Linked DNA regions of Homo sapiens: all the other regions are linked to region 1. The links come from fine-mapping of genetic effects on gene expression. A gene starts in region 1. Each other region holds a variant in brackets. All regions are shown on one strand. Distances are between the middles of the regions.

What was found.
Region 2: its variant is fine-mapped to the expression of RPRM in whole blood (INTERVAL, PIP 0.97).
Region 3: its variant is fine-mapped to the expression of RPRM in whole blood (INTERVAL, PIP 0.95).
Region 4: its variant is fine-mapped to the expression of RPRM in whole blood (TOPMed, PIP 0.96).

The regions. Positions count from the first base shown.
Region 1 is chr2:153,476,261-153,481,415 of GRCh38, reverse strand. It overlaps RPRM (reprimo, TP53 dependent G2 arrest mediator homolog), which reads left to right and starts at 2,654. Exons shown (of 1, transcript NM_019845.3): 1 at 2,654-4,078. The coding sequence starts at 2,851. The coding sequence ends at 3,180. It also overlaps a transcript of GALNT13 not described here. RefSeq lists a silencer at 2,420-2,619 and enhancers at 2,976-3,479, 3,480-3,983, 3,984-4,487.
Region 2 is chr2:153,632,510-153,637,664 of GRCh38, reverse strand. It overlaps a transcript of GALNT13 not described here. Among named protein-coding and RNA genes, the nearest start is that of RPRM, 160 kb to the right of the region's middle. The variant C/G (reference allele first, on the strand shown) is at 2,433.
Region 3 is chr2:153,538,400-153,543,554 of GRCh38, reverse strand. It overlaps a transcript of GALNT13 not described here. Among named protein-coding and RNA genes, the nearest start is that of RPRM, 62 kb to the right of the region's middle. The variant G/A (reference allele first, on the strand shown) is at 2,182.
Region 4 is chr2:153,449,170-153,454,324 of GRCh38, reverse strand. It overlaps a transcript of GALNT13 not described here. Among named protein-coding and RNA genes, the nearest start is that of RPRM, 27 kb to the left of the region's middle. The variant G/C (reference allele first, on the strand shown) is at 2,802.

The sequences.
Region 1 (5,155 bases):
TTCTCCTAAGAAACAGGTGAATAAAAGGAGAAAAACTGAAATTGTTCACTGAAAATTCAAAAGGAAAAGATAAATAAAAGGGATTCTGTAAAACATAAAGATTTCTCTAGCAACACAGATCCCCTTAAGTCAATTAATGAATGAATAATAAATATAATTTTTGTATGACTAAGTTTATAATTAATTTCCATCTATATGTTCTAAGTAATTTTATTAAACAAAATCAGAGTGGAGGGAAAATAAGGGAAACAATCCCAAGATTGTCTTGAACAAAACCAGAGAGCTGAACTAGCTGATGGGGGAAATACCTATTACCTTGTCAACAATTTTGTGACTAATTAGTCCTTAAACCTGAGAGAAAAGATCCCACCCAAAGATTTGATTAAATATAAAAACTCTCCTGACTCCAAGGTTTGATCATTTTAACACTGACCTGACGAAAACAGCAATACTGTTCCTAGCAATAAATATACTCAAATTCTGATAATGATTCAACTAACACTTTTAGCATCCTTCCATATTGGATCTTACAAATGTACTATAAACTAACTCTTGGTTTTTGTCACATAAAGAAGGGGCTCTCCATTTGCTTACACCTAACTTCTACTGAACACACAGTTCTGTACAACTTGATCCCTGGAGGTGGGCCTCTGTTCTCTGACCTTTTATTTTTCTAAATTTCTATTACTTTTCTCTACCATTCATCTCAGGATGACTTTATATTGCCTTAAATTTGTTGTAATTTTTTCCATGTATACATTACGTTTTATTATTCTTGAGGACTACCCACATTAACTAAGATAGACTGATTGTATGATGAGATTTAAGTAAATTCTTACTTATCAATTATTAATAAATTTCTTCAAAGAAGAAATTGCCGAGAGTGAGGTATTTTTCAATTCTAATTAAATTATGGGAAACTAGAACAATAAGCCAGTGAATTGTGGTAGAAGCCCAAGCCTGAATTTTCAGCTGTTAAACATCCCCCTCAAAATAATAATAGCTATTTTAAAAAATCAAACTTATTGCAGCTGATATACCATAAATATCAAAAAATTGAAAACTCAACCAGAAGGCATTTCATTCTATTTTATGATAGTCATGAAGCAGTGCAAAAACATTTAAGGAACACTCTGAAGATGGAATAAATGATGTTTTAAGAAACAGAAATAAGAGGATTTACCAAGCAAACAGAATGAAATTAAGAGTAGAGTTGAAAATGGCAAGACAGCTACTATTTTTCAGTTTTATTTTATTTTTAATTGACAACTGTACATATTTATGAGGTACAAAGTGATATTTTGATACACATATACATGTGGAATGATCAAATCAGAGTAATTAGCGTACCCATTATCTCAAATTTTTATCAGTTCTTTGTGGTGAGAACATTTAATAGAAAGTAAATGTATTCTATTGGAAGCTCAAGTTACTGGTTTCCAGCTGTTACAGCTGAAAGAAAGAGGGAGGAAGGCAGGGAGTAATGGGGAAAAGGAGGGAGGGGAAAGAAAACAGAAAAGGGGGAGCGGGAACATGCAATATTCTTTCAGAGTTAAGAAACTTAATCTGACAGGTTTATAGAATTTCGTTGGAACCTAGAGCAAAATCACAATGGCTGAAGCGTCAATCAGGCCTATAAAAACATCTGTGTTTAGTTTAAATGACTAAGGGTGAAATACATCAGCTTATGGAAAATGGGGAGGGCTCCCAGTATTTGGCCAGCGTTCTAGGTGATGGATGTTGATGAGCAATTCCCTTCAACAACTGATTTACTGCCAACGGACAAAATGCTGGAAGCACATCCAAAAACTTATCTGCAATTAAAATTACAAGCAAGTGGTCACTCTGTTCACCTCCTTTACCAGAGAGGTGACCCTGCTCCCGGCAACTACCTCCACCCAAGGGCCACAGAAGAACTCCTCCTTCCTCTAACCCTCTTTCCTTGGCCTCAAACCTCACGGTAAAACCTGCCTTGCTCTGTCTCCCAATCGCTTTTGTAAAGGAAGCTGGGTGTAGAGCTCTTCTTTCTCCCTCCCTTCCTTTTTTCTTTCCTTCCTTCCTTTCTTCCTTCCTTCTTCCATGCCTTTCTGTCTTTCCAAATTCATTGCTTTGTAAGAAACATTCTCAGATCACCTCCACTCCACTAGAAATCCAACGCAGGCGAGTCGGAGTCAAGCACAGGCAGTGGGCGGGTGGCCTCAGCCGGCACCATCTGGCACCTGCGATTCATCGCCACTTTCCATTCGCCCAGAGGTCAGGGGGGCAGCAGGCAAAGGACACGCAGAGCTCGTGTGTCCCAGTTCCTCTGAAACTTTCAGCTGACCGCACCCTCCCCCGACAAACTCTTTAATCATCCATCAAGCTAGAAGAGTACAGTGACCTCTGCCTGGCCTTTGGAGTTTGCAAAAGAAGCAAGCAATAAAAAGCAAGACCAGGTTCGCCCCTTTGCTTCCTCCACCTCCCAAGAGCAGCGCGCAGCGCGGCGGTGCGGCCGGAAGGGGCCGCTGTTTGCTCAGCGCAGCCACCCCGCCGCTGCAGCCGCCGCGGCCCGCACCTCCCACGGCCGGGCTGGTCCAGCCCCGCCAAGTTCCAACAGCCCCCCCTCGAGCGAGCGCCGGGAACGAGCACCACCAGGGCTGGAGCGGACGGCTTTAGAAGAGCCTAGCTGCTGCGCGCGTCGGAGAGGCTCCTGGGAAACTCCCACGGCCCAGGGACTTTCGAAAGCAGAGCGAGGAGCCCTCGCACGCGCTAGTCTGCGAGTGAGCGCTCAGCCCGGCACCTGTTCCTCCAGCGCCGCCGCCTTCCCACCCCTCGGACCCGCGCCGCTCGCGGCGCCCGCCCGTTCCTGCGATGAATCCGGCCCTAGGCAACCAGACGGACGTGGCGGGCCTGTTCCTGGCCAACAGCAGCGAGGCGCTGGAGCGAGCCGTGCGCTGCTGCACCCAGGCGTCCGTGGTGACCGACGACGGCTTCGCGGAGGGAGGCCCGGACGAGCGTAGCCTGTACATAATGCGCGTGGTGCAGATCGCGGTCATGTGCGTGCTCTCACTCACCGTGGTCTTCGGCATCTTCTTCCTCGGCTGCAATCTGCTCATCAAGTCCGAGGGCATGATCAACTTCCTCGTGAAGGACCGGAGGCCGTCTAAGGAGGTGGAGGCGGTGGTCGTGGGGCCCTACTGACCCGCCCTCTGCCCCCGCGGCAACCGCTCCCACGCCTGCCCACTTTGCTAGCCCGGCTGTGCCCCTCACTATCAGAGACTGGGCGAAGCAAACCTGTCGGAGTCAATTATTTCTCTCGACTTCGGCCTTTCGGAAAGAAGCGACCGGTTTCTCCCTCGCCCTCTGAAAGTCCTCATGCCTGGCAGTCGGAGGAGAGCGCCCAGACTCTGAACTCAGCAGAAAGTGGCAAGAAGAGGGCGATTAGGGCGCAGAACTTTGGAAGCTGCTACTTACTTGGAATGCGGGGAGACCGACGGTGCGAAGGCCCTTCTCCACCCGCAGGTGGGCCAAGCTCTGGGGGCAGGTGGAGAGGGCGGGCAGGGGAGAGACCCAGCGGCACTGATCGCCTTGTGACCGGAAGAGTGACCTGTTAAAAGCCACGCAGCAGACTCATGGGGTCTCACAAATCCGTGTCCGGGTGCGCTCCCACTCTTCTCCTGCTCCCCCCCTGCCCTGGAGGGGAGGGGCGATAAATACCTTTGATTGTAACGTGCCGTTTTAAGAGGTTTTGTGTTTGTTTGCTTGAATACAAATGTTTGATAAGTCTTTTTCTGCCCCAGTGGCCTGTTTGCCTGCCTGAGGAGTTACAGTTTTGTCATTGTGGGAGAAGGGGTGGGGGGAGGGGGAGCCTGCGAATTTGAACGGGGTGAGTTGTTTCTTTTAGTGCATTTCCCACTGGGTCTTTTGGGAGGCGTCTAGCGTTCCTGCTGGCCCTGGGACAAAGACCCAGAATAGAACTCGTAGCTCGTGACTGCACGGTTTACGCCACAAAAGTGCTCTTGACATCCGTGACACCGTTTTGACTTTTTGTTTTTTTCTTATTTAACATTTCCTTAATAAATGCAACATTTAAGCGTTTTGTTCCTGGCCTCCTGGTGGTCATTCTGCGCTCCCCAGCAGGGGGGAACGGGGCGGCGGTGAGGAGTCTGGCTCCCGGCCAGGGCAATTAACCCTGGAGAGCTGCGATTCAACTTGTGGATCCCCTGGAGGGGCGAGGGTGGGGCCAGACGGAGAGGCCCTGGGATGACTGAGAAGGAGCCCAGCCTCAGGCACAGTAGCCGTCCTGGAGGCAGCATCCTTTGTTTCCTCTTATCGTGAATATTTTATATTTCATTTAGTCTCAGCTCTCAGGTAGGCGAGACGACAGAAGGGCCCCCGCGGGAAGATTACACTTCCGTGCCAGGCTCCGGCGGGAACACAGGATTACACCGCTAATGAAAGGAAGAGACGGCTTGGACAGCCTTTAGGGAGGGCGTCTCTACCCTAACCAACGTCAGCCAGGCGGCTTTGGGATGCTGCCCACGGGTGGGGCCGGGGGGCGGAGGGAAGGGGAATTATAAAATGCGAGGAAAAGTAGCTGCTAAGGTACACAGTGACGTTAGTGACGTTAATGCTCCCTAGGGTAAACCATTGTTACTAAAACATGAGATGCATTACTGTCGTTGTGATATTACTTTTTCTAGCAAAAAGACCACGTTAAAAGATTCAGCCTGTTCTTTGTAATTTAGTATGCCCCAGACCAGGCAAAGGGTTGAGAGGAGTTAGCCGAGGTCCTGAATGTGGGAGATGAGTATTACAACCCCAACTGGGAAGGATATTTGGAGTAGAACTACAGATGGCCGTTGACACATTTAAGGTTCAGAAATTCAACAGTGTTAGAAAGAAACGCCTAAAAACCGTGCCTGTGAAAATAACCCAAAGGATACAATAGCTTCGAGCATAAACTTGACAAAAGGTTTTGAGCAGTTTATTTTTATGCCTGAGACAGGATCCTAAATATTTTCAAGACTATAAAGAATCCACTAGGATGCTATATAGCAATTAAAATTTCAAAGACTTCACAATGGCAGCTATAAGAGTAACTAAAATCAAATAATAATAAAGTGTTCCATTTACTCAGAAAGAAGCACAACTGGTGTAAACAATGTTAACGACT
Region 2 (5,155 bases), 160 kb before region 1:
TTCATAAAATTCTGCATATAGAATAAAATACTCATTGATAACATGCATCTAAAGGCTCCAAGAAAATGCAAAAAACTTGCTGTTATATTTCTCTCTCCTCCCTGTGTTCTCTTTTTGAAAACAAGCCTGATAAGAAGTAATAACATTAGGAAAGCTTGAATTCTCAGTTCTTCTTTATTCTATCCTACTATCTAGAGAGGTTTATCAGTAACAAAATGTAGATGAAGAATAACTGAAGAAAAAACAAAAAAAGGCAGGAAAAGGAAGCCAAAATTGGAATTTCCACTGCATAAGAACAGCTTTTGGATTCACCCTGAGGTACTGTTAGTTAATTAAAGATCATGTGATAGATTGCAGTATCTTTTGCTTCCTTCCAGTTAGAATATTCAATTCAATTGAAATGAGGCAATGTGGACTTCAAAGGGAATTAATACATCATATAGATACGCTCATTCATAAGATTCGATCATTTTAGAGATTAGCAATTTGGTATATGACCAGAGATATATTATTACAAGCTTGAATAACCATAAATGATGTTATAATTTAATCAGGTAAAATGGAGCTTCAGACCTTATTTTCTTTATTTCTTTGTAAAAGGACATTTCACCTTTTTTTGGTGCCTATTATCGAATTTAATGCAGTCCCTGTCAATAAAATATACCTTATATTTGACCCAGTAGTTCATCACTGTAATTCATACTATCACCTTGACAGAGATACAGAGCACCTCTTCACAGGATCATTTTACTTAAAGACATGTATCAAGTCACCTTCTAACCTTATCCTCTCCAGGCTAGACTATGTCAACTGATTTATCTTGCCTTCAAAGATTCTACTTTCTTACTGTAATAATTTCTTTAAGTCTTCTCTATTTTCCTCTAAATTCCTAGCAATGTAGGAACAAATATTTGAACATGTTATTTCAGAGGGTTTAAATGGTACACAGCATTAGGAAAGCAGTAAGAGCCCTGGCCCTACTAGAAGGAAGAGAAGCCTGGATTCCAGCACTATTTTGATGATTGATGAGAGGTTCCTTGAGTTTGCAAAACTGAGCTTCAATTTCTCCAAATTTAAAAACCAGAAATATCCTATTTTATCTAACAAGGTCTTTGATTGGGGTGGGAGAACGTTTGAATTTAAAGCATTTTGTAACTGTAACTATTATTATTTTCTGCTAACCACAGTCAAAAAGGAAATTCTGCCTATTAAATAAAAACTACGAGAAGCCTTTTTACACATTAATATCAACTGAGGATACCACCTTTCTGTTTTTAAAATAGTTGAAAACTATTAAATAAAGTATGATTCTGCACCTATTCACTGGGACATATTTAATTTTTTAAAATGTAGTATATGCTGTTCTGGTTTTCATTAAAGTCAGTAATAGGGAGCAGAGGGGAATATTAAAAAATAACTAGGTAATTGCTTGTCTTAGTTTAAACTATTTTCCCCTTCAAAATGTGACTGCATTTTGAGTGTGTGGAATTAAATATAAGTGGGTATGTAGTTAGCATGGTGAAGGGGGGAATTAGACAGAAAAAATCTTTTTATATAACGGGCGTTTTGTGTCTGATTTCTTTCCCAGCATGCTAAAAATGTAATCACCAAATGTGAAATAGAAATGCATGGAGTTCGGAATTTCCTCTTCACAGTGTTCTCATCCCACATCAACACACATACATCCTTCAAGTTTACACATTTAGCTTCTATTTAATACATCATTCAAACAAGGCATTTTCTCTTATGTTTCTTTTTACCCCTGCCTCAAAGCATCTGAAATTTCAAAAAGCCTTTTCTTAAACATGTACAAAAAAAAACATGATACTAGAAAGAAATTAAAGCCTCAAACTTATCAGTGAAGTCTTTGAAGTTTACTGACTTATGCTACAGGGAAACCACAGATATGCAATATTTGAATATTTCCAGTCAGTAGCATAAAATTAGTGGAGTTACACAGAGTAGTTGTGGACACAGAGCCACCTGACCTTTCCGTATCCAAAGATACGAATGAGTTCCAAGACAGTGGGTGGTGCCTCTTCAACTCTGCAGAATTCATCCTAGGCTATAAACTTTTAAATATCTACATTTCCAACTTCTTGCCCTAATTTACTTTTAGTATCACAAAATTTCTTACAGTCATCCAAATAATTGTTTTCTTAAATCTTGAAGACTGAAAGGTAAGTTAAAAACAAACGTATACACATATACATATATATGTGTGTATATATATATACATATATATGTGTATATATATATATATATACATATTTACTGTACTATGAGTAGAGAGTTCTAGAAAAAATCTGTTTAAAGTTTCTTGGTTGCAAATACCAGGAACTCCCTTCAAATTACCTGAAGCAAAAGAAAATGCATTGTGGAAAGGTAGTGTACTATCTTTTATGATTGCCACTTGGGGGATGGCAAAATTT[C/G]TCAGAAAAAAATGTTTCAACTGGGCAGGAAGCCTAAACTGGGTCTACCAAAGGATCAAAGGAAAATAATAAAGCACATGCTTTGCTTCAAGAGTCTCACCTCCATTTGCCTTTCTTAGAAAGTGGTTTTTTTTTCCCCTGCTTTCAAGAACAAATTTCCTCTAAAGTAGTTATCAGTTCCACACTTCTTAGAAACTAATGCTTTCTAAAATCACTCTGCTTTAGCACCTAATTTTTCTCAACTTCAGTTTTCACATTCGCAAATTAGAGATCAAGATGCCTGCCTCCCAGAGGTAAGAGAGAACCACAGGAAGAGAAAGCAAGTTAAAAAAAAAAAATCTATAGCAGTGCTTAGTGTGTAATTTGTGCTCAGTAAAGATTTTCAGCTGGGCATGGTGGCTCACGCCTGTAGTTCCAGCACTTTGGGAGGCCGAGGCAGGCAGATCACGAGGTCAGGAGTTCAAGACCAGCCTGGTCAATATGGTGAAACCCCGTCTCTACTAAAAATACAAAAATTAGCCGGGTGTGATGGTGCACACCTGTAGTCCCAGCTACTCGGGAGGCTGAGGCAGAAGAATCGCTTGAACCCAGGAGATGGAGGTTGCAATGAGCTGAGATCGGGCCACTGCACTCCAGCCTGGGTGACAGAGCGAGACTCCATCTCAGAAAAAAAAAAAAAAAAAAAAAAAAGATTTCCATCTTTTTTCAATCATCAAAAGTTAGTATCATAATGAACCACTTCTCCCAAGGATGAATGGATGAAGAAGAGAGTCTAGGAGTATGGATTTCATGTCTTTACCTCTCAGAGTAGATGTCATCAAGAACAATTATAAAATGTCCCATCAGTGTATTATCAGAAAGAAGTGTGAGTTGAATAGACATGTACTACATTCTATTACTTTCATGATTCATACAATTTTCAACAAAAGTGCTCTTCTGAATATAAGTGTAGGTTACATAAAAGGTAAGAGTTCTAATTTGGTTAATTACTTATGCTTATTTTCTTAGTTATGTTCAAGTGTTTTTTCTGAATAAAATCATAAAACTTAAAATTATGTGTGACTCATTTACTAAATAATTTTCCCGGTGGTTCTGGACTACTGACTCCCTGTATAACTTCTGTTTGTGTTCCTGACAATTCACCAATATGCCACACAAAGTTATGGAAATTCTTCTGCATTACATCTGACATCTTTCAATGAGACGATGGAAAATGATGATCTTTAATTCAACAGCACTCAAAAGGTAGCTAATTTGATTTTTAAATCTTTAGGGTCTGTAGAATTTAAGTCAGACATCGGAAATTATTAAAAGAAAAGATTGACAGTTCTGTCCACAGACTTTATTGGTTATAATAAGATATTTATAAAACCATAATGCTAGAGAAAAAAGTACTATAAATGTTTTGCTATGAAAAATGCAGAGGCTTTTATACAGGATGCCAAAGCCATAATAAAGACTTTCATAAATCTCTAGCATCACAGTTCCAAAGATTGGGGAATTCTGAAAATACGCTAAGAAGACTATCCTTGGAAATAGATCACTCACTGGACACCTTAGCTAGCCACTCCTGAAAAACATGGCAAAGAGGAACAAGCTGGTAAACTACAACAGGTAATTCACCACCAGGTGATAAATGTCTCCTATGGTGAAAAATATTGTAGTAGGCAAACAAAGAGGAGGCATTTCTTGGAAGAGGTGATGGCTTCAAAATGTCTGTAAATAACATATATCTAGAATCTATCTATATGAAACATTCTTAAAACTTTGAAAGGAAAAAACCTAATATTTGCTCAAGTTTATTATCATCTACAATGGTGAAAGGGAGTAAACTGAATGGGAAAAAAATGACTACTTGGTGAGATAATGTCTTATTTTATGTGTAGCTTAAGCATATTTATTTCTTCTAAGAAGAATACTTTATATCCTCAGCTGTGTGATTCAGAAATATGAATTGAACTGCACACAAATACAACCTGAGGGATAGGGGAAACATAGATTATATTTTCTATTTTGTATATGTTGGAAATTAAAGGTATGCTTAGCCATTTCCTTGAATTTCAGTTTCCCAAAATGGGAAGTAACCAAGATGCCTTGTATAGGTATAAAGGAACAAACAAACTATGGTATACCATGCAGCGAAATATTATTTATTAATATAAAAATAGATGGCGCTGCGTATGGTGGCTCACGCCTGTAATCCCAGCACTTTGGGAGGCCGAAGCGGGTGGATTAATTGAGGTCAGGAGTTCGAGACCAGCCTGGCCAACATAGTGAAACCACATCTCTACTAAAAAAAAAGTGCCAAAAAAATTAGCTGGGCGTATTGGTGTGTGCCTGTAATCCCAGCTACTTGGGAAGCTGAGACAGGAGAATTGCTTGAACCCAGGAGGTGAAGGTTGCATTGCGCTGAGATTGCCCCACCTCACTCTAGCCTGGGCAAAAAGAGTGAGACTCCATCTCAAAAATAAATACATAAATAAAATAAAAAATAAATAAATGAGCTATCAAATCATGAAAAAACACAGATAAATCTTTAATGCATATTATTAAATAAAGGAAACCATTCTCAAAAGGCTACATGCTATATGATTCAAATTGTATCCTATATGTTTTATTTTATAAAAAAGGTAAAACTATTGAGATAGTAAAACTACAGAGGGAGTGCAAGAATCAGTGGTTTCCAGGGGATAAGGGGTGGAGTTTGGGAAGGATGAACAGGT
Region 3 (5,155 bases), 62 kb before region 1:
ACATGTATAAACACACACTCCATTAAGAATGCAGAATGTGTTCTTATGTATAATTATCAATTTATATAATTTACATTACAAGATCACAAATGCTTTAATAAAGGTTTATGACCTTGTAATATAATTATAAATTTATTTTTGCTACTTCTAGAGAAAGATAGCATCTTATTTTTCACTGAGTCTCTAGCTCTTCTAAATGGGCTGGTCACAGGGCATGCACTCAACAGTAAGATGTAGGCAGGTACAATAAACACAAGAATTATTGTCTTCCTTCAGCTTCTGTGAGATGATTCTTCTCTGGCCATTCCTTCTCAGTCTCCTTTGTGGTCTCCATTTCCTCTGTTCAACTGTTCAACCAATCTTATATATGGGTATTGCCAAGCATTCACCTCCAACCTTATAGTATTTCCACTCAACAGATTATTTCTGGGCAACCTCATCTACAAACTTGTTTTAAAGCAGAGGCTTCCAAATTGCAGCTTCCAAGGCAATCAATGGGGCGTGGAAAGAAATTATCAAAACTTCTATTTACAGATATATTTTTATCTCAGCCTTTTAAAATTTCTATTTATAATATGCATTGCACACAAAATCATATAAGTCATTATAAATACATGTAAAGTTGGTTACATGCTCAAAATTTTATTAGATGTGTACTTTTATTGATGAGATATAGCATATATAAAATATATATGACTGCCTCCACAAGCAATGGGGTAGAAGTCGAATTCATGCTCACCAAATCTGTTGGTCTTGACAAAGATTCTTTGCTTGACCAAACTTTTGTCAGATTCCTGAAACTTCTCCTAGGCCTAGCTATGCAACTTCTTGCAAGTTTCAGTTTTCAACAAAAACCTTGATAGGGTTGTTTAGCCAGAATCCCCCATCCTTCATATCTGATCACCCTCAATAGCTAGTTGGGTTCTTCATCCTCTACCATCCCTCAAGTGATGTCTGATCACCCTGGCCTGTCTTCAGCAAGAATCCTGTTAGTTCAGTTTAATCAAAATATTCCTTACCCCTGATGTTTCCTCTTCATAATTTTCCATCTACTGATCCCCAACTTGGCCCCTTGCTATAAATTCCTAGTTGCTCAAGCTGTATTCAGAACTGAGACCCATTCTATACTTAAATCTCTTTTCTCCTATTGCAATAGTCCTGAATAAAATGTGCTTCTACTTCCGGTTTTTTTTTTGTGTGTGTGTGTGTTTGTTTGTTTGTTTGTTTGTTTTTTGAGATGGAGTTTTGCTCTTATTGCCCAGGTTGGAGTGCAATGGCATGATCTCAGCTCACTGCAACCTCCACCTCCTGGGTTCAAGTGATTCTCCTGCCTCAGCCTCCCAAGTAGCTGGGATTACAGACCTGTGCCACCACGACTGGCTAATTTTTTTGTATTTTTAGTAGAGATGGGGTTTCAACATGTTGGCCAGACTGGTCTTGAACTCCTGACATCAGGTGTTCCACCCGCCTCAGCCTCCCAAAATGCTGGGTTTACAGGGGTGAGCCACTGTACCCGGCCTTTAATTACTGTTCAGCTCTAGTATTCGTTTGCAACTTGTCAGGGCCAAGAGAAAATATCCCCTTCACCCTTTGAAGGTTCATTTAAAAATTACTGACTAGAGGCAGATGGATAGGAGAAAAGGCATAGAAATGTATTTGATCATAGTTTCATATAACACAAGAGCTTTCAGAATGAAGGCCCAAAGATACAGGGGAAATTGTCCATTTTTATGCTTATGTTCAACAAACTATGGGCAACTGTATAGAAATACGTTGAACAAAAAAGCTAATGCTAATAACTGAGTGGGGAAACCAAGCAAGCCCTGTCCAGCTAGATTCTTCCTGTTTTCTCTAAGCATGTATTCCCCTCCTTTCTGAGGTTAAGCCAGGACACCCTCTGGAATGAAGGTCTTATGGCCTACAATCAAACAAGGTAGATCAGATAATTTATTTATGACCAGTTTTTACACAGAAACGCAGGGGAGAAGGTTAGAGTAATAATTGTAGGTTTTATGACTGGCTTTGGGGAAAGGTGTTCTGGTTTCTATGACCCACACTGGAGAAGAAGGATTCTAGTTTCTATGGTGCCTTGAGAAAGAAGAGAAATGAGAGACAGGAGGGCAAGAGAAAGTCAGTCGATTAGTCCATTCTCACCCTGCTATAAAGAACTGTCTGAGACTC[G/A]GTAATTTATAAAGGAAAGAGATTTGATTGACTCACAGGTCAGCAGGATTAGGGAAGCCTCAGGAAACTTACAATCATGGCAGAAGAGGAAGCAAACACATCCTTCCTTCACATGGTGGCAGGAAGGAGAAGTGCAGAGCAAAGGAGGGAAAAGCCCCTTATACAACCATCAGATCTCATGAGAATTCACTCTCTATCATGATAACAGGGTGGGGGAACAACACCTATGATCTAATCACCTCCCACTGGGTCCCTCCCACAACACCTGGGGATTATAGGAGCTACAATTCAAGATAAGATTTGGGCAGGGACACAGCCAAACCATATCATTCCACCCCTGGCCCCTCTCAAATCTCATGTCCTCACATTTCAAAACAAAATCATGCCTTTCCAACAGTCCCCCAAAGTCTTAGCTCATACCAACATTAAGCCAAAAGTCCAAGTCCAAAGTCTCATCTGAGACAAGGCAAGTCCCTTCTGCCTATAAGCCTGTAAAATAGAAAGCAAGTTACTTACTTTCTAGATACAATGGGGGTACAGATATTGGGTAAATACACACATTCCAAATGGGAGAAATTGGTCACAACAAAAGAACCAAAGGCCTCATGCAAGTTTGAAACCCAGCGGGGCAGTCATTAAATCTTAAAGCTTCAAAATCTGCTTTGATTCCATGTCTCACATCCAGGTCACACTGTTGCAGGAGGTGGGCTCCCATGGACTTGGGCAGTTCTGCCCCTGCGGCTCAGTAGGATACAGGCCCGGGGGCTGCTTTCATTGGCTGCTGTTTAGTACCTGTGGCTGTTCCAGGTACATAGTGCAAGCTGTCAGTGGATTTACCACTCTGGGGTCTGGAGGATGGTGGCCCTCTCCTCACAGCTCTGCTAGGCAGTGCCCCAGTGGGGACTCTGTGTGGGAGCTCCAACCCCACATTTCCCCTCTTCATTGCCCTAGTAGAGGTTCTCCATGAGGACTTCACCCCTGCAGCAAACTTCTGCCTGGACATCCAGATGTTTCCATACATCCTCTGAATTCTAGGCAGAGGTTTCCAAACATCAACTCTTGTCTTCTATGCACCTGCAGGACCAATACCATATGGAAGCTGCCAAGGCTTGGGACTTGTACCCTCTGAAGCCATGGACTGAGCTGTACCTTGGCCCCTTTTAGACATGGCTGAAGTGGCCAGAATGCAGGACACCAAGTCTCTAGGCTGCACACAGCAGGGGGGCCCTGGACCAGGCCCACAGAACCGATTTATTCCTCGTAGGCCTTCAGGCCTCTGATGGGAGAGGCTGCCATAAAGGTCCCTGACATATCCTGGAGACATTTTCCACATTGTCTTGGCAATTAACATTTGGCTCCTCATTACTTGTGCACGTTTCTGCAGCTGGCTTGAATTTCTCCCCAGAAAATGGGTTTTTCTTTTCTACCATATTGTCAGGCTGCACATTTTCCAAACTTTTATGCTCGGTCACCTCTTAAATGCTTTGCTGCTTAGAAATTTCTTCTGCCTGACAATCCTAAGCCAAAAGAACAAAGCTGGAGGCATCACACTACCTGACTTCAAACTATACTACAAGGCTACAGTAACCAAAACAGCATGGTACTGGTACCAAAACAGAGATACAGATCAATGGAATAGAACAGAGCCCTCAGAAATAACGCCGCATATCTACAACTATCTGATCTTTGACAAACCTGAGAAAAACAAGCAATGGGGAAAGGATTCCCTATTTAATAAATGGTGCTGGGAAAACTGGCTAGCCATATGTAGAAAGCTGAAACTGGATCCCTTCCTTACACTTTATACAAAAATCAATTCAAGATGGATTAAAGACTTAAACGTTAGACCTAAAACCATAAACACCCTAGAAGAAAACCTAGGCATTACCATTGAGGACATAGGCATGGGCAAGGACTTCATGTCTAAAACACCAAAAGCAATAGCAACAAAAGACAAAGTTGACAAATGGGATCTAATTAAACTAAAGAGCTTCTGCACAGCAAAAGAAACTACCATCAGAGTGAACAGGCAACCTACAGAATGGGAGAAAATTTTCGCAACCTACTCATCTGACAAAGGGCTAATGTCCAGAATCTACAATGAACTCAAACAAATTTACAAGAAAAAAACAAACAACCCCATCAGAAACTGGGCAAAGGACATGAACAGACACTTCTCAAAAGAAGATATTTATGCAGCCAAAAAACACATGGAAAAATGCTCATCATCACTGGCCATCAGAGAAATGCAAATCAAAACCACAATGAGATACCATCTCACACCAGTTAGAATGGCAATCATTAAAAAGTCAGGAAACAACAGGTGCTGGAGAGGATGTGGAGAAATAGGAACACTTTTACACTGTTGGTGGGACTGTAAACTAGTTCAACCATTGTGGAAGTCAGTGTGGCGATTCCTCAGGGATCTAGAACTAGAAATACCATTTGACCCAGCCATCCCATTACTGGGTATATACCCAAAGGACTATAAATCATGCTGCTATAAAGACACATGCACACGTATGTTTATTGCGGCATTATTCACAATAGCAAAGACTTGGAACCAACCCAAATGTCCAACAATGATAGACTGGATTAAGAAAATGTGGCACATATACACCATGGAATACTATGCAGCCATAAAAAATGATGAGTTCATGTCCTTTGTAGGGACATGGATGAAATTGGAAATCATCATTCTCAGTAAACTATCGCAAGAACAAAAAACCAAACACTGCATATTCTCACTCATAGGTGGGAATTGAACAATGAGATCACATGGACACAGGAAGGGGAATATCACACTCTGGGGACTGTTGTGGGGTGGGGGGAGGGGGGAGGGATAGCATTGGGAGATATACCTAATGCTAGATGATGAGTTAGTGGGTGCAGCGCACCAGCATGGCACATGTATACATATGTAACTAACCTGCACAATGTGCACATGTACCCTAAAACTTAAAGTATAATAATA
Region 4 (5,155 bases), 27 kb after region 1:
GAGTTAGTAAAGAAGCTAAAGTTAAGACTATAAGACAGTTCTATATATATATATACATAATTTCAACTTTCATTTTAGACTCAAGTTACCTGGGTATATTTTGTGATGCTGAGGTTCGGGGTACAATTGATCTTGTCACCCAAGTACTGAGCATAGTACTGAATAGTTAGGGTTTCAAGACTTGCCCTTCTCCATCCTTCCCTACTAGACCCCTCTAATAGTGTCAGTTGTTGCCAGCTTTATGGTCATGATTATCCATTGTTTAGCTCCTGCTTATAAGTGAGAACATGTGGTATTTTTTTATTATTTTTCTGCATTAACTTGCTTAGGATAATGGTCTCCAGCTGCATTCATGTTGCTGCAAAAGATGTGATTTCATTCTTATTTATGGATGCATAGTATTCTATGGTGTATATGTACTACATTTTCTTCATCCAATCCACTGTTGATGGGCACCTACTCTGGTTCTACGTCTTTGTTATTGTGAATAGTCCTGTGATGAACATATGAGTGCATGTGTCTTTTCGGTAGAATAATTTATTTTATTTTGGCTATACACCTAGTAATGGGATTGCTAGTTTGAATAGTAGTCCTGTTGTAAGTTCTTTGGGAAGTCTCCAAACTGCTTTCCACAGTGGCTGAACTAATTTACATTCCCTCCAACAGTGTAAAACTATTCTCTTTTCTCTGTAGCCTTACCAGCATCTGCTGTTGTTTGACTTTTTAATAATAACAATTCTGACTGGTGTGAGATGGTAACTCACTGTGGTTTTGATTTGCATTGCTCTGAAGATTAGTGATGTAGAGCATTTTTTAATGTTTGTTGGCTGCTCATATGTCTTCTTTTGATAAATGTCTGTTCATATCTTTTGCCAATTTTTAATGGGGTTATATATTGTTTATTGTTCAATTGTTTAAGTTCCTTATGGATTCCAGATATTTGGCCTCTATGGAAAGCACAGTTTGCAAATATTTTCTCCCATTCTGTGGGCTGTCTGTTTAGTCTGTTGATAGTTTCTTTCGGTGTGCAGAAGCTCTTTAAGTTAATTAGATTCCACTTGTCAATTTTTGTTTTTGTAGCGATTGCTTTGGAGGACTTAGTCATAAATTCCTTCCCAAGGCCAACATCCAGAATTGTGTTTCCTAGGTCTTTTTTCTGGGATTCTTGTAGTTTGATGTCTTACATTTAAATCTTTAATCCATCTTGAGTTAATATTTGAATATGGTGAGAGGTAGTGGTCTAGTTTCATTCTTCTGCATATGGCTAGCCAGCTATTCCAGCACCATTTATTGAATAGGGTGTCATTTTTCCACTTATTAACTTCGATGGCTTAGATCAGATGGTTACAGCTGTGCAACTTTGTATCGGGGTTCTCTATTCTGTGCCATTTATCTGTATGACTATTTTTGTGCCAGTACCATGCTATTTTGATTATTATAGCCTTATAGTATAGTTTGAGGTCAGGTATGTAATGCCTCCAGCTTTGTTGTTTTTGCTTAGGATTGCTTTGCTTATTCTGGGTCTTTTTTGGTTTCATATAAATTTTAGAATAGTTTTTCTCTGGTTCTATGAAAAACAATATTGGTTGCTTAATAGGAATAGCTTGAATCTGTAGATTTCTTGGGGCAGTATGAACATCTTAACAGTATTGATTCTTGCAATCCATGGGCATGGAATGTTTTTCCATTTGTTTGTGTCATCTATGATTTCTAAGACTATCATTCTATTATGATTTAAATGATAATACTAGATAGAAAGAAACTACTTTTGTATTGAAATGCTGTAAAATATTTTATTTCACTTAACACTAAATTCATATGATACTCATATTCTTTTTCTTTTTTTTGAGATAGAGTCTCACTCGGTTTCCTAGGCTGGAGTGCAGTGGTGCAATCTCAGCTCACTGCAACCACCTCATGGGTTCAAGCGATTCTTTCACCTCAGCCTCCCAAGTAGCTGGGACTACAGGCACCCTCCACCACGACCAGCTAATTTTTGTATTTTTAGTACAGACAGGATATTCTCTTATTTTTAAATTAAGAAGATACTTTTAATTCTGCAATTTGTGATTTGGTCAGAAAATCACATACAAATTTCAGGAAAATAAGCATATTCTTATGCCGTATGTTTTGTTGTTTGGGCCACAGCATCAGTTGGAAGGAAGCTCTCTAAGCAGGCAAAAAGAGCATCAAGTGCTGAAAGTGTAAACACTAAGTTATAAAATTCTCATGAAAACTTGTTAACCAAAACCAAACCAATGTCAGTTACAGAAGCTGTACAAGCGATGCTGGCTGTTTAGGAGGTTGTCCTTCAGATGCTTGCCAATGCAACATTTGATTATAACCTATATGAAAGAGAATCCACATTTTTTAGTCAGGAAGCCAAGGCTTCCAAAACCAGCCTTGAAGGTAAATGAATCCTCCACTCAGTCCCAGGAATCCCCCATCTAGCTGCTTCATGAGCCTGCCAATCAAAAGCAAGTCACCTGTGTCTGCACCTACCTGCCGCCTGGGGCTAGAACTCTAATTGCAGTGAGAAGGGAAAGCAGCAGTCATTCTGACACTGCCTGGGGACACTATTTCCCATTTCTTTCACAGTAAATTTACAGTATCGAAAATGAAATTTCCTCCCAAGTTCCGTTTTAGTTCAAAACAAAAACATACAGTACACTGGAATTACTGTAAAACGCTAGTTTTGGTGGAGCACATCGGAGTGCATTATGTGGATGTGATATTTAACTCTCACTTTCTCTTTCTATACTGCATAAACTTGGGCAAATTTCTCTTGCTAAAATGGAGCA[G/C]AAAGAATTTAATGTAATTTAGTAGTCTCCAGCAGCCTCATGCACTTGGGGGAGAGCAGTATTATTTGATAATGATAATGGTGATGAAGGCACTCATACTTTGCGAATTTCTTACCAAGTTTGAGAAGAGAAAAATTATGTACATTTACAAATTATAATAGACTTAAGCTAAGAAGGTTTTTGTGACAATAAATGATGTTACATATGGGTTGGAAGAGGTTACTGAAAACAGGCTAAAGCTAATTCCAGTATTGGGTGAGAAAAGAATCTTATTTACTAGATTAAAATGTATAAAGGAACACACAATTTACTAATGAATGCTGATGATTTTAGGTCAAAATATATTTTCTGAGGTTATAAATTAGATTATTTTTATAGTTTCAATTAAACTATTAGTATATTAATACTTAATTATAATACTTTTTGATGGAGGCTGAAAATATACAGCAATTGGGAAGAAAGCACATCATGCCTCCCTGGGGTGTTTGATAAATATCAAAGTATGACAATGAATTGTGTACAGAACATGCTTTATTTGTATTTATGGTTGAACTTCATAGAAAAACTTCTCTGTGAGACATTAGATAGGTCCTAACTAAAATATTGTATCATGTTTACTTTCATCCATCTTTTGAAACATGCTATGGAAAACTGAAGGTCCTATGGAAAGAAATCAAAATAAAGAACATACTTGCACAAGTTTCCAAGTGAAAGCCCATCAAAGTTTCTTTTGGTCAATTGCAACTGGCTACTATTACATAAGAGGGACATTTTAATGGCCTGATAAGTGTGCTACCATATTACAAGGTCAGCTTCACTTCATTGTAAAATGCTTTGGAAGACTGACTGATATGTGTTCATCGGAATATAATAGACATCTGCAATCAAATTCTATCCAGAGAATTTTCTGGGCACAATTTAAAGTGTGGACCAAAAAAAAAAAAAATTCAAACCTAGGGGTATAGGACTCAATTATCTGTGGGAATCAGAACTTATCATCCAATACATCATCTAAAGAACAATTAAAGATTTTACTGAAGCAGTCAGTGACAAAACCAGCGTCTGAGTTCACGATTTCTCTGAGCCTCCTAGTGTTAAATTTGATCATGGATCATTTTGCTTCAATCATTTTTTTTTCATTCAAACTGAAAAATATTTATAACAAAAACTAACTTGTTGAGTAAGATGGGGAGGAAAAAAGAAATATGAGTGAAAATAAAAAGTGAATGCAGCAACGTATAATATGCTGGAAGAAACTTAATTTGCAGTTTTGCTGTTTAAATGCATTATGAGTTATGAGAATAACAGAGGAAGACTTTAGTAGAAAATGATGGTAGAATAGGCTTCACATTACTAATCTGACAAGTCAGAGTGGTTACATGAACTCTCCAACAATTATTACCTGAAAGATTCATTCTAAACCCTGAACGATGAAGCCTTGTTAAGTAAAATGCCTCTGTAGCAGTCAACTCTATCCAAGCCATACTCTGGGTTTTTCAACCAGAAAGATTTACTACAGAAAACTGTTTTCCAGATTATATTGTTTGAATAGGTTCCCTCCAAAATTCTGGCATTGAAACTTGGTCAATGTGATGTTATTAAGAGGTATGGCCTTTAAGAGGTGATTAGGTCATAAAGGCTTTTCCCTTCATGAATGGAATTATGACCCTTATATAAAAGTAGATGCAAGTAACATGTATCCCACTTACCCTTCCACCTTCTGTCATGTGAGGACACTGTTTCTCCCCTCTGGAGGATGTAGCAACAAGGCACTATTTGAAAGCATAGAGCAGCCCTTACAAGACAACTGAATCTGCTGCCACCTTGATCTTGGACTTCCAGCCTCCAGAACTGTGAGAAAATAAATTTATCTTCTTTATAAATTACCCAGTCTTAGGTATTTTTGTTATAGCAACACAAAACAGACTAAGACAATAGATAACGCAATTGTTGAGAAACAAGTAGAGGTGAGTAGTGCAAAGATAGATTGGCAACAGCAAGAAGCCATTACCATCTCTAGGGCAGGAGGGACAATGGAAGGGAGCGCTTTCCACTGTGTGGGAGCCAGAGGCATGGGGGAAAAAACATCTTGGTCAGAAGTGGGATCTCAGGGTGCATGTCTTCTTTGAGGGACTGGAGTTATGAAAGAGAAGCACTTGCAGAGACAACACAGGATGCAGAAGGAAATGGTGAGAAGTAAGCAGACCTCCCCCTCCTCCTGTCCTCAAACTGTTGACCCCCACCTTCTGGTATTCGGTTTGGGCTTCCATAAAAAAATACCATAGACTGGGTAACTTAAAAAGCACAGAAATATTTTCTTACAGTTCTAGGGGCTAGAAGTCCAAGATCAAGTT